Regions from separate parts of the Homo sapiens genome. Here all the other regions are linked to region 3. The links come from fine-mapping of genetic effects on gene expression. A gene starts in region 3. Each other region holds a variant in brackets. All regions are shown on one strand. Distances are from middle to middle.

Region 1 (4,168 bases), 130 kb after region 3:
CCAGAGGGCAGGCAGACTCTTCCCTGAGAAGCCTCACTCACCTCCTGAATTTTGTCATTTGGAGCCAGGCATGTATGGGCACCTGCCCTCTACCCCCACAGCGGTGATTCTCACCTTGGATGTGGGTTAGAAGCCCTTGGGAAGGGCTCTGGCTTCCTGGGTGAGGCCAGCCCTGCATCTGAGACTGCGGGAAAGCTGCCTTGAGGATTCCCTGGGGTGGGGGATCCCAGCTCGAGCATCTACACTAGATGCAGACTTCGAAGTCACTGACCAAGTTTTCAAGCTCTGCCCTGTTCTCTGGGTGACCTGGGGTCTGTGTGGCTACTGCTGCCTCATTCCTACTTTTGTCCAATTGTCCTTTTCTACTGAGACCACACACAAAGCTGATTCCCTTAGTCAGAAATAGAGCAAGTGTACCAGTTCATTTCAGAGGAAACGTGGTGACAAACCACCAGATATTTCATGATAAAGCAGAAAGTCGGAGCCCTACTCGCTGCCAGCAAGCGTCAGGGACAAGTCCTGGGCTCCACCCACTTTGCTCAGCGCTGCTCAAAGGTGCTGGAGAGCCTAGGATGTGGCGATTCTTTCCGGTACCTTTGTTTGTGAAATTCATCATTTATGTACAAAGTGTTTTCTGCGTTTTTACAGGCTGAATTGTGTGTCCCCCCAAAATTAGTGAATGTAACCACATTCCTTAGTGCGAATCAGTCTTCACAGATGTAATTCGTTAAGATGAGGTCACAGTGGAGTAGGTGGCCCAATCCCATAAAACCATGTCCTTATGGAGGGTAAAAATCGGGACCCACGCACCACGCAGGGAGAACGCCAGGAGAAGACCAAGGCTGAAGCTGCGATCATGCATGGGCCAGGCAAGGAGAACATCTCCGGTTGCAGCGAACCACAGAAGCAGGAGAGAGGTTGGAACCGAGTCCCCCACAGCCTCAGGAGGAGCTGGCTCTGCCCACACCTGGACCTCAGTCTGCGGCCTCCAGAGCTGAGAGGGGACACATTTCTGCTGTTCAAGCCTCCTGGGCTGTGGCACTTTGTTACGGCAGCCCCAGGACACAAATACTGGCTCCTACCGATGGCCTGTCCTTCTCTCTTTTTTTTGTCCAAATCTTTCCTCTTTGGCCAAAACAAAAGAGTAGAGAGATGGATGCCGTAGATCCACACACGGATGAGCTTGACTGGATTAGGTTAAAAGTAACGTGGCCTATGAGATTTTTTTTTTGGTATAAATATGAAGAGAAAAAATGAGTCTGAAGATGGAGTTGTTGATTCTGAGTCCGTGCAGGAGTAGCGAGAGGACCACAGCAGAGCCAGCGGAAGAAAGCCCAGCAGGGTGGGACGGCGTGCAGGGGTGCGACACAGACATGCTGGGGACCTGTGTCCACGTGTGCACGCATGTGCCTCACGTGCTCTATATCTGTGACTGTGCAACTTGGCATGTGCAAGTCTGTCCCCCAGCACCACCATGAAACCCTAGCCATGCCCAGGAACAAGGTGTTACTGCGACCTCATTTTACCAGTGAGCAAAACACAGCAGAGACACTGAGTGCCTTAGCCCAGGTACCACAAGCAGTATTCTGTGGTAGAAGAAATCTGAGTAAGGAAGAGGCTCAGTCATTTCTTCTCTTGTCATGAGCTTGGGGAGGCAGGGAGGGCTCTGGGGCTCGACATAAGCTCCATCCCCTGGGCATTACTGCCCAGAGCTCAGGGACCTGACCTAACAGCTGGCTCCGGGCCAGACTCAGGCCACCCTCTTCCCTAGGCTCTTGTGGAGTGATTGGGGACATCTCTGCTGCTCTGGGTGCCTCTGTGCACCTGGAGAAGCCTCATTTTTGAGGCTGGATGGAAAAACAGAGAACACACACCCATCCAGGAGATAGCTAAGTGAGGATTCTGTAGATGAGTGGCTAGGCATTGCTCAGAAAGCTGCCCGTTCATGCTTCTCTCCCGTTACACTCCTGTCCATCCCAGTCCCTTCTCTGTCCCTGTTCTCAGCATCACAGCAGCTGGATCTGGCCCCTTGTCCTCTAATGCTTCTATGGGGCATTTGTCCACGTGCCCCTGACTATTCTACCTTGATAGCAACCTCCATTAACCTCCATGGAACACCTTGGAGTCAGCAAGTTATTTATAGTCAAAACCGAGGGTCAGGAGGGCCCTGGACGGCTCCACTCTCCTCCCTTCCTCTCCCCTCCCCTCCCCTTCCCTCCCCTCCCCTCATGTCCCCCTGCTGTCACAGATGGCCTCTGGTTTGTGATCCTGGGA[T/C]TGGGATCCTGGTCCGTGTGTTAGAGTATCAAAAAAATACACATCTACACCAGAAACATTTTAACGTAAAACACATACATATTTTGCTGTAAGTCCAATGTCTTTTGATGGGTTCTTTCTCTATCTCCCATGTTGGAGTACAGTAGTGTGATCATAGCTCACTGCAGCTTCGAACTCCTGGACTCAAGTGATTTTCCCACGTCAGCCTCCCTAGTAGCTGGGACTACAAGCACACTACCATGTCTGGCTAATTAAAAAAATGATTTGTAGAGATGAGGCCTCATTATGTTGACCAGGCTGGAATTGAACTCCTGGCCTGAAATGATCCTCTTGCCTCAGCCTCTCAATGCCAAAGTCTTTTCTTTGAGTTTCGGGCTGCTGACTGGCTTATGGGGTCTTCTTTCTTGTATAAACACCACCTATCTAAGATGCGTCTTTTAAGGTTCCTCAAAGTGAAACAATGAACTAAAACCATGTGTCAAACAATCTGAATGTCGTCTTAGGCTTCAATGATTTTCCTCAATAATTTACGCTCGTGTATTTTTAAAAGCAATTTGATTTTGTCTGGTCATTCCAAAATACCCAATTTAATTTTCACAGAAAAAAACAATTCATTCTTTTTTTTTGTTGTTGTTGCATTCATATTTCAGTGGCTTATGTAACATTTAAATTACAAATTACAACAGTGATTGCAAAGGGTATTTAAAAAAAAGCATTGGGGCAAATAGCAATCCACCTGGTAGGAGAGAAGTGTGTTTGTGAGCCTTGCTGTTGGGGTTCAGAGGCCATTTATGGAGGGTGGGTGGAGATGGGGTGGCTGTGGAAGGCCTGCCCTGGCTGCTGCCGTCCTCGGCCACCGCGTCTCTCCTTTCCTTGGTGTCTACACTGTGCCTTGGGGCCTGGAATCCCCTGCCATGCCTCCCATTCTAAGGTGGCAGCTGGCAGGACTGCTGGCTACCTTCTCCTCAGGGCCATTGAAAAAGTAAAACGTCACTGGAACAGTTTGGGTGTTTCTTGGCTTCATTCATCTCTTATTCATCCAGTCGCTCGCTGAATATTAATGCTTGGCCAGAGTCAGCTGATTTTAATTCCGGCTGCAAATTATGCTGCCAAGAATTCCCTCCAAGGCCAAGCAAGTTCTTTGCTATGTACCATTTTGGGGAAAGAACCCATGTCTTCACCAGAGTTCCATATATTTGAATAGGTGGGAATTGCTATAATGGAGCTGGCAGGAATGAGTGAACAGGTCCCCAAATCAAGACTGAAATGAAGTCTAAGAAGCTCTCCCCATGGTCCATAAACCCACAGGTGGCAGCCACTGACTGCCATGCATCCCGTAATCTGGAGCTCATGCTGACGGCTCTCACACAGGCGCAGACTCCCTTTTTCCTTTCTATTTTACTGGGATAAAATATGTAGAGCACAAAATTTTCCGTTTTAGCCATTTTCAGTGTACAGTTCAGCAGCATTCATCACACTCACAATGTGGTACAAACATCACCATTATCTGTTGCCAAGACTTTTCCATTACCCCAAAGGAAAACTCTGTGGCCATTAAACAAGTAGCCTCCAGACCCTGCCAGCTCCTTCTTAGCTTTGGGTTTTGGTGAGCCAGCATAGGTATGCCTTTTTACATATCTCGATCTGATCACATATTTAACTAAGAAATACATACTCCTGGTTTTGGGTAAGTGAACACCAAAACACAATCACTTTACATGTGGGACTTGCATTATGCAATAGATGAGTTCATGAAAGTAATCTACTTAGATTCTTTGAAATCCAATAAGGTTATAAATGATCTGGTAAAAATGGAGTGAGGGTGACATAAAAAATAATTCATAGTTTGAGAAATTGCATGTGTTCTGCAAATTTATATTTTACACCTTGGATT
Region 2 (4,168 bases), 130 kb after region 3:
CACATCTGTGTACACACACCCACACACATGTACATGACACCCACATCTGTGTACACATAGGCACACATACCCACACACATACACATGTGCAGTCATACTCTACACACATGTACACACGCCTGCACACATGTACACATCTGTGTACACACTCACATATAACTGCACACATGTACACAACACCCACATCTATGTACGCACACATATCTGCACATATGTACACATGTGCACACACTACACGTGTGTACATGACATCCACATCTGTGTACATACTCTTGCATGCATACCTGCACACATGTACAAGACACCCATATCTGTGTACATACATGCCCACACACATGTACATATGTGCACACAGTCATACTTTACACATGTGTACACAACACCCACATCTGTCTACACATACATACCTGCACACATGTACCTGACACCCACATCTGTGTATGCACACTTACATACACACATGTACATGACACCCACATCTGTGTACACACACGCATACCACACACGTGTACACATGTGCATATACACTCATACTTTACACATGTGTACACGACACCCGCATCTGTGTACACACACTTTCATACATACTCCCACACATGTACACGACACATCTGTGTACACACACATGCATACCCACACACGTATACGCATGTGCACACACACTTATACTCTGCACATGTGTACACGACACCCACATCTGTGTACACACACTCACATGGATACCCACGCACGTGTACACATATGCACACATCCATGAACACTTGTGCACACACCTAGCGCACAAACAGGCGTGCACCCGTGTATGCCTTACGCACACACAAGCAGGCACCGTCAGTCCTGTGTAGTGTGGGGTCACCTGTGAGTCACCCCGGGAACACGCAGCTCCACAGGCGGCGCCCATCTGTTAAAATTTTGAAAAGACAGCCCACACTGGCTCTGTTGAGAGCGGCTGCCTCTACGTTCTTGCTGCCCCCTCACAAATCAGACACTGCACATATGTTGTGATAGCAACTGTTACTCTTTGTTTATTCCCTCTATAAATAAACTCGGAGCTGCATCAGACCCTGTGAATATTTTTAGAAAGTTTCGGGCATCACAGCGGAATTCAGCATCTTGCCCATTCATAAGCTTTCTGTGCTTCAGAAAACCAAACACGCGACAGATTCCCACTGACATTCTGCCAGTTTGATCTCTAAATAATTCAGCATTAAAATCTGGTCAGCTCTCCTACCTCCCCGAAAAACTCCTGCAAACACTGTGCCAATTAAGTTGCTGAAAACAGCAGATTTGCACTGATACCATCCAGATAAAGCTGACCATTAAATCGCAATTTAACATCCCCGGGCAGCAGTGGCTGCTGACAGCCTCCAAAGCTTGCAATCTCATTTAACCCCCTCCTGTCAGGAGCAGGCCCGCCCTCTCAGCATAATGCCGCCAAATTAGACCTGACAGGGCAACAAGAGAAAGAAAAACCTCTTTAGCTTAAAAGTCAGGCCACAGTGGGCAACCCTGACCTTCAGCGTCCCCTGCTCAGCCCCCTGGGTTCTCCAGGGACCCCGGAGACATTTACGCAGAGAGAGGAGGAGAGAGATGGACAGAGGGGAGTGGGGCGGGGGCCCCGGCCACAAGGCACTTGGATTTCCCAGGGGGCAAATTACAGAGAATTTTCCTAGACAATGGAAGAAAATTTCACCTGGGCTTTTTCAAGTCTTTCTTTGGTAATAAAAGATGAACCCTGATGGTTCTGTTCAAACTACTGTGGCTCAATATTTCCCTGTGCCTGTAGTGCCCTCTGACTCCGAAGCCAGGGGACGCCTCTGTTGGAACACAGAGCCCCCTCCATGCCGCAGACGCCTGCATTTTAGATGAGGCCATCTTAGCTGGTGGCTGCAGCCTTCAAAGCCCTCCCCATAACTGGCATTTACCAGAGCTCTGTTTTCATAAGGAAATCAGGCTGCCTCCGAGACCCCTGACCACACGCGCTCTCGCCGCTGTCCTTTCCACCCGCTCCACCTGTTCTGCTAAGAGAGGGTGCGGGAAAAGGAACGGAAGGAGGGGAGGGTCCCGGCACAGCCGATGGGAGACGATTTTCACAACAGTCAGGAGGATTTCTCCAAATCCAGACGGAGCTACTCTCAGAGAAACGGCTACCCCACGTTTCACACCCGACAAACGAGGACAGAGGCAGTTGTAACTAAAATGACTTCCATGTATATTCTAGTTCAAATCAGTCATTAATCTAACAGAGATTCCTTTGCAAACACACACTTTTTGTTTTTTCTCCTGTACAAAGAAAAATGCTTTAAGGCCAAAAGTTAGAAGGGTGTCACCCATCAGTTTTGTAACACATCCTGGACCTTAAGAAAACCGAAGGCAATACCCCACTCTAAAATCCTGTCCGTCTCTTCTTCCTCCTCTTCAGTCCTCTCCTTGCCTGAATTTCATAAATAGATTGTGATTGCACAAGTCAAAAACTTCTCAAAGTCGAGCTTAAAAGAGACAGAGAGTCAGAGACAGAGAGAGAGAGGGAGAGAGAAGTCCTCCTCCT[CCTG/G]GAGTCACTCCCTCTTTAGGCAGCGGTTCAACACCTGTAAGAAGGCCTTTTTAAAAAGGAGAGAAGAGCCAAGCTGCTTGCAGGAACAGAGCCCCAGGCGTCAGCGCAGTCTGCTGCCCACCTCTGCGGTGCCCCAACCTCCTGTGACTTACCGTCCGGGCTCCCAGGGCCACACCGCAGGAAGGACTTCCTAGCGCTCCTGGAAACCGCTGCCCTCCACGCCGTGGTCGCGACCTGCTGCAGAGGCCGGCTCTCGGGGGCTACTGACCCACTCAAGTTCCGAAGTCTCCCCCCTCCATTTTTTCCCCTCCTTAAGTTAGACGAAATGGCTATAGCAGAACCCACCTCAATGTTTATTTCGACTTCCCGGGGCTGCAGTGGAGTGAAGTCCTGCCTGCCCACGCTTTTCTGCAATGGAGTGGTTTATTTAATTTGTCAGAATAATGGGAGCGGCTGAATGAGAGACAGAGAATGCAGTGTGGTATAAAAGAAACAAAGGCTAAAAGTACCACTATTTTGATTCCCTTTTTAAAATTACTTCCAAAGTGTGGTATCTATTGTGAAGAATAATGCTGAACAAAGCAGTGTCTTGGCAAGATTCACAGAGCTTATTCACCCACAGCCAGTTCTGCCTGCGCATTCAGAGGTAGGACACACTTATAAATGATGTATTGGAAGGACCATAGCTCCTATTGTGTTCTCAGTGTAAACAAAAAGGCAGACAGGGGCTGAATGGTGTGTAGGCAGTGAGGCCACGCTGCAGCCAGCCATCCCCGGTTCTGGAGAGGGAAAACTGAAGTCAGCGGAAGCCCCAGCAGAGTCAGTTTGTTGAAGGCTCATCCCCCACTTTCTCCTCTTTGTCCATCAACCCTAGTCAGGGGCTGGAAAGGCTTCTAGAAGGTTCTCCTGGGAAGCACTGCCTGGAACATCCCTGCCACTCACGCTCCAGGTGGACGGTGCGTCCTGAACCTGACGATTTCCAGAATCTTTCAGTGAGAGGACACTAGTCTCCCCCGATAACAGCAGCTTCCACGAGTTTCAGCAAACTTCATGACGGCCTCTGTGCACTGTGCGCAGGAGCTGGGGGTGGGTTCCTGCAGCCTCCCAGGCCAGCCCCTGACAGCTGGAGGAAGTTCTGTTGTTACCGAGGCAGGCATGAGGCTTTCTCTCTGGCCCTAGAATCTCTCATTCTGAAGGTCCTGCAGTGGATCCACCTGGGGCAGCTGGATTCTGCATTCCCCTGCAGGTGGGCAATGCTTTCTGGTTTAATCTTTCAGCTCAGAGCCTAAGTTTTTTTTTTTTTTTTTTTTTTTTTTAGACAGTTTCGCTCTTGTTGCCTAGGCTGGGGTACGATGGCGCAATCTCGGCTTACCACAACCTCTGCCTCCTGGGTTCAAGCCATTCTCCTGCCTCAATCTCCCGAGTAGCTGGGATTACAGGTGCATACCACCACGCCTGGCTAAGTATTTCTTTAGTGAAACAACTTCACTGCATTTGTCAAAAAAGGGCCCTGCTGTTTATAAACTGTAAACTTCAACTTCCCTTGTCCATTTGATGTAAAAGCACATTTTGAATATTGGTTTTCTTCTGGTAAAACATTTTTAGACACTCTTGCCA
Region 3 (4,168 bases):
GTGAGTGTGTAGGAATGTGTGTGACACGTGTGCAAGAGAATGCATGTGTGAGAAGGGGAGGAAGGCCAGAACAAGCCAACCGTCACTGGCTCCGGCGCTGGCCAGAACCACTGGGCACCCTGGAGGGTTCTTTGTGCAGGAAAGAGGTCCAACCTGTGCCCAGAGCTTCTGTGGACCATCAGCTTCACCCCCCAATGATGACCTCTGCATCCCCTCAACAGACAGATTTTGAAACCCACAATTAGCCAGGCACTGTCCCCTTGCCCCTGGGGAGACATCAGTGACCCGGACTGGCCATCAGTGACCCAGGCTGGCAAAAACTCCCTCTCTATGCAACTTCCTGGGATTCCCCTCCCACAGCCACATCTCCAAAAAGCCGGCCTCTAGCTTGGAGCCCTGTCCCTAGCCTTTGGCAGCCTTGTCTGCAGGTGGGGTGGCAGGAGCTGGGGCCAGAGGATGGGGGCAAGGCTGCCCAGGCCCAGCCAGGGGCTGGCACACATGAAGAACCTCCTGCTGGGTGTGATCTGTGACTTTCCAGAGCCTTCAGGCCACATCATACAATGCTCTAGGAAGGAAACAAAATGGTGTCCCAGTTCAAAATTATCCACATTTACCAAGAGTCCCCCGCTTACCCCGCCCACCCCGTAGCTTTTTCCTGGGTCTAGATGGCGCCACTTTCAATCCCGCCCCCCACCAAAAATGACACACCCAATAAATAGATTTCCTCCATGTATTTCCCTGTTGTTGTGTTTACAAAAACATTGTTGGTTGCACTACCCCTTCACATCCTACCCCCTCCTTTTGTCAGAAGGAGGGCAGGCATTTCGGGGGCCTGGGCGCTCAAGGAAGGCCTCGCGGGTGCAGGAGAGGCCTTGGGGTGTGCAGGGGAGAACCTGCCCCTCTGCCGTCTTCGACCTTAAAGTTTAGTCCTCGGCTCTGGTCTGGTGGCTTTCTCTTGCCTTCTCCTAGGAAGTTTTCCCAGCCTCAGATGCGGCAGAGAGGGGACAGCAGCTTGGAGTCCTGTGAGGAGGTGGAAGGACACGTTAGTGGAGATCCTGGGCCTGAGGAGAACTAGCATTGCTCAGGGGAGGAAAATTGCCTCTGCTGGCGCCTGCGGCCTCCCACGAATCTGAGAAACACTACTCCACCCGCCTCTGCGTCCCTCAGGCCCTAACGGTGGTTTGCGCTCCTGGGTTCTAGCGCCCTTGGGTCTCGCTCGCTGGTGCCCGCCCTGCACCCGGGGCATCAGGAGCACCCCTCCCCACCATTCAGATTCTAGAGGAACGAGACCACTTGGGCAGGTGCGGGTAGGGGACCGGGCGTGGAAAGCGGGAGTGCAAGCAGGTCCTCAAGTCACTGAGACTCTCCTCACCTTGGGGTGGGGACTGGAAGTTTGTGAGCTGCTTGCAATCCTGCAGTTTGAGGAGCGTGGCCTGATGTTTTAACTGTTTTGCTTTAGGGCGCGCAGCCTCTCTGACATGCATTGTTGTGAGTTCACCCTAAAGGGTATGACTTCAGAAACGATCACTGCCGCGATCATTAAAACAGAAGATGATGTCTATGAAATTCACTCGACTTGGTATCTGGGCCTCTTTCAGTGAATTTAAACTCGCAACATTAAAGCAACTCTTGGGAGAAAACGGGAATATGTCCAAATCTCAGGTCATTCAAGTCAGACATCCGCGCTCAGAACCCCAAGGAAGGCTTTTAAAGTTGCGGAATGCACCAGAAGGAGAGCAGGGATCCCCCGAGGCCCCACTTGCGAAAGACCCCCCTCCCTGGGCCCCTCCTCCTCTTCCTACCCCTACCAACGTTGGAGGGGGTCTGGACTTTGAAACTTGTCACGGGGAAAAGAACCTTCGCCGAGAAGGCTGCTAATGAATTCAGACTGCATAGTTCTCAAAATCTGATGTTTTGCAATGATGACATTAGCGTGGCGGCCGAGGGTCCGAGCCCAGAAAGTCTGCGCAGCTGCTCGGCGCTTTGAGCGCCCGGGACAATGGGCGCAGTGTTCGGCCTCGGCCTCTCCAGGCCATTTGCATACCCCGTTCTGCCTGAGTGACCGGCGGAGCTGCGGCAGGGAGCAGCATTGTCCACGGGTCACTTCAAGATGAGCGAGATGACAAGAGCCAGGTGAGCGATGGGGCGGGACATTCCCCAGGTCACGAGAAGAAAACGCGGGGAGAGCCTTGGCCAGAGCTTGGGTTTGTTGATTCTCGAGGTGGGATTTGCTCGTTTGCTCTTAAAGCACTCATCAGATGTTGTAGGGGGAAATTCGAGATTTAAAGATTTTTAACAAGAATTTACAAAGCCTCATTTTGGGAGTAATTTGGGGTCTTCCTTTTTCTGAAAAATCCAGTGATCTTATGGCATTTTATTTCATTGTATTCTTTCACTCTTCGAAGTTTAAGAGTTCCACCGCCAAAGGGAAGCAGTTTCATTCTCTATAGCCAAAAGCTGTCACCAGTTGAGTCTGAATTTGTTATTTTCCAGAAACACCATTTTGAAAAGTTGCAACTGAGGCCCCTTGGCCGGCAAATCTGAGCTGCAGAAGCGCCTGAATTCCGGACGTTAAACCTCCAATCACCAGCCAGGGCAGCTCCGGCTGGGACAGCGCGGGCGCGCGGCCCCTCCACCGCCGCCAAACGGAGCGCGCTTGACGCCCCCGTTTTGACTTCAGCTCAGAAAGACAAGTCTTTGTAATGCAAGTTCCTCTTCCCTAGAGAGTTGACGCACCACCTGCCACCATCTCTACCCCTAGCCCTGGAGCGGCCTGCAGAACTGGGACTCTTCTCTTGTGGATTTCAATCGTGGGGCGTGTAACTGTTGCCAATAATTTTCAGAGACCTGGATCCTTAAGGAGGGGATCCTGGGGGAGGGACCTGAGGTGGGAACGGGTGGGTGGGACGAAGGACGAAGCCAGAAAAACCGAGACAACAGGAGGGAGGCAAGGGACCGAGGGCAACGTTTCTCCCAAGTGAAACACGCTGCATTCCGGCACCGACGGCTCCTCCGGCGCCTGGGCCCCCCCAGGCCCCGCCGCGATGCACCCAGGGCCTCCCGAGGCCGCGCTCCACCCAGGCTGCTCCGGGTCCGCAGCCCCACAGGCCCTCCTCCCCTCACCCCTCCTCCTCCCTCCGCCTCCCGCACCCGCGCACCACCCACTCGAGCGAAAAGCAAGTCAAGCAAATCCTGGGGAAGGCGCCCCACAGCCCTCTCCCGCGGGCACCAACACCTGGGCACACCGCGTCTCAGGCGGTAGCGGAGCTGGCCCACACCGGCCCCGCCAGCGCCCGGGAGGCGTCTCCAGGTCCCTACCCGCGTTCGCTGCGGATTGCAGCGACGCTCATCTCGGGAATATAACGATTAATCCAACCGCAGGTTTCCAGATAAGTGATTGTGATGGAGACTGTTGGCGAGAAAATAGACAATTATCCGCTGTTAGCTTTACATAAAGATCGCATTAACTCAAATTAGTTATCAGACAAAAGAGCGTCGGCGCGCGCGCCCTGCCTGCCCCGCGCCCTGCCCGCGGGGACCCCCGGGCACAACCAGGCCCAGGGCACGGCAGGCAGGGCCGAGGCCTCGGCAGGGCGCGAGGAGAGGGGGCATGCACTAGGGGGCTCCGAGCTCTGGCCCCCGCGGGGACTGCGTGTTGCGCCCTCCTAGACGCAGCGCGGGGCTCCAGACGGGGACAGGGTGGCTGCCCGAGCGCTCCCCGCCCCCCAGCGCTCCCCTCCGCTGCGCTCCGGCTCCCCGCTGCTGCGCCCCTCCCGCCCTCGCGTCCCGCTGCCGCAGTCCCTCTTCCCCCGCGCGCTCCGCGAGGCGCTACCCTTTTCTTTCTGGCGCCCGCAGCACCAAGTTGCTGGTCCCTGAGCACGAGGAGACGAAGTTAATGACTCCGGGAGGGAACTGCCCCTCGACCCCAAACTCGCAGCGAAAGCGTCCTCGGCCATGCGAACACTCTTAGACTACCGTCCTGTGCCCCGCCGTCCCCACTCCACGCGTGCGGTCACTGTCCCTCCCGGGGTCGCTCCCTGCGGGGCCGCGCTGCCACTCGGACAGGAGAGGGGACCAATGGGAAAGGTGGGCTGGGGAGAAAGGGCGCAGAGCGACCCTGGAGCTGGGTGTCCATGGCCTGGGGGCACCGGCTGAAACGTGGCCGTAC

Direction of the effects. Positions count from the first base shown, and alleles are read on the strand shown. Sizes are in standard deviations (SD) of each study's normalised expression. Not every link is listed here.
For the expression in amygdala of the gene that starts at base 2,103 in region 3, allele C in region 1 goes with a lower level than allele T (small effect, 0.28 SD a copy in GTEx).

Evidence for each region. PIP is the estimated chance that this variant, and not a neighbour inherited with it, causes the effect.
Region 1: its variant is the best candidate, but not a certain one, in a credible set for the expression of LINC00404 in amygdala (GTEx, PIP 0.60).
Region 2: its variant is the best candidate, but not a certain one, in a credible set for the expression of LINC00404 in tibial nerve (GTEx, PIP 0.72).

The regions. Positions count from the first base shown.
Region 1 is chr13:111,977,957-111,982,124 of GRCh38, reverse strand. All of the region lies in intron 1 of SOX1-OT (SOX1 overlapping transcript), which reads right to left. Among named protein-coding and RNA genes, the nearest start is that of SOX1-OT, 7.7 kb to the right of the region's middle. The variant T/C (reference allele first, on the strand shown) is at 2,275.
Region 2 is chr13:111,971,122-111,975,289 of GRCh38, reverse strand. It overlaps SOX1-OT (SOX1 overlapping transcript), which reads right to left and starts at 2,980. Exons shown (of 4, transcript NR_120392.1): 1 at 2,897-2,980. The variant CCTG/G (reference allele first, on the strand shown) is at 2,549.
Region 3 is chr13:112,104,564-112,108,731 of GRCh38, reverse strand. It overlaps LINC00404 (long intergenic non-protein coding RNA 404), which reads left to right and starts at 2,103. Exons shown (of 2, transcript NR_047014.1): 1 at 2,103-2,133; 2 at 2,494-2,637. It overlaps SOX1-OT (SOX1 overlapping transcript), which reads right to left. Exons shown (of 4, transcript NR_120392.1): 4 at 717-1,020. RefSeq lists enhancers at 715-1,333, 1,954-2,573.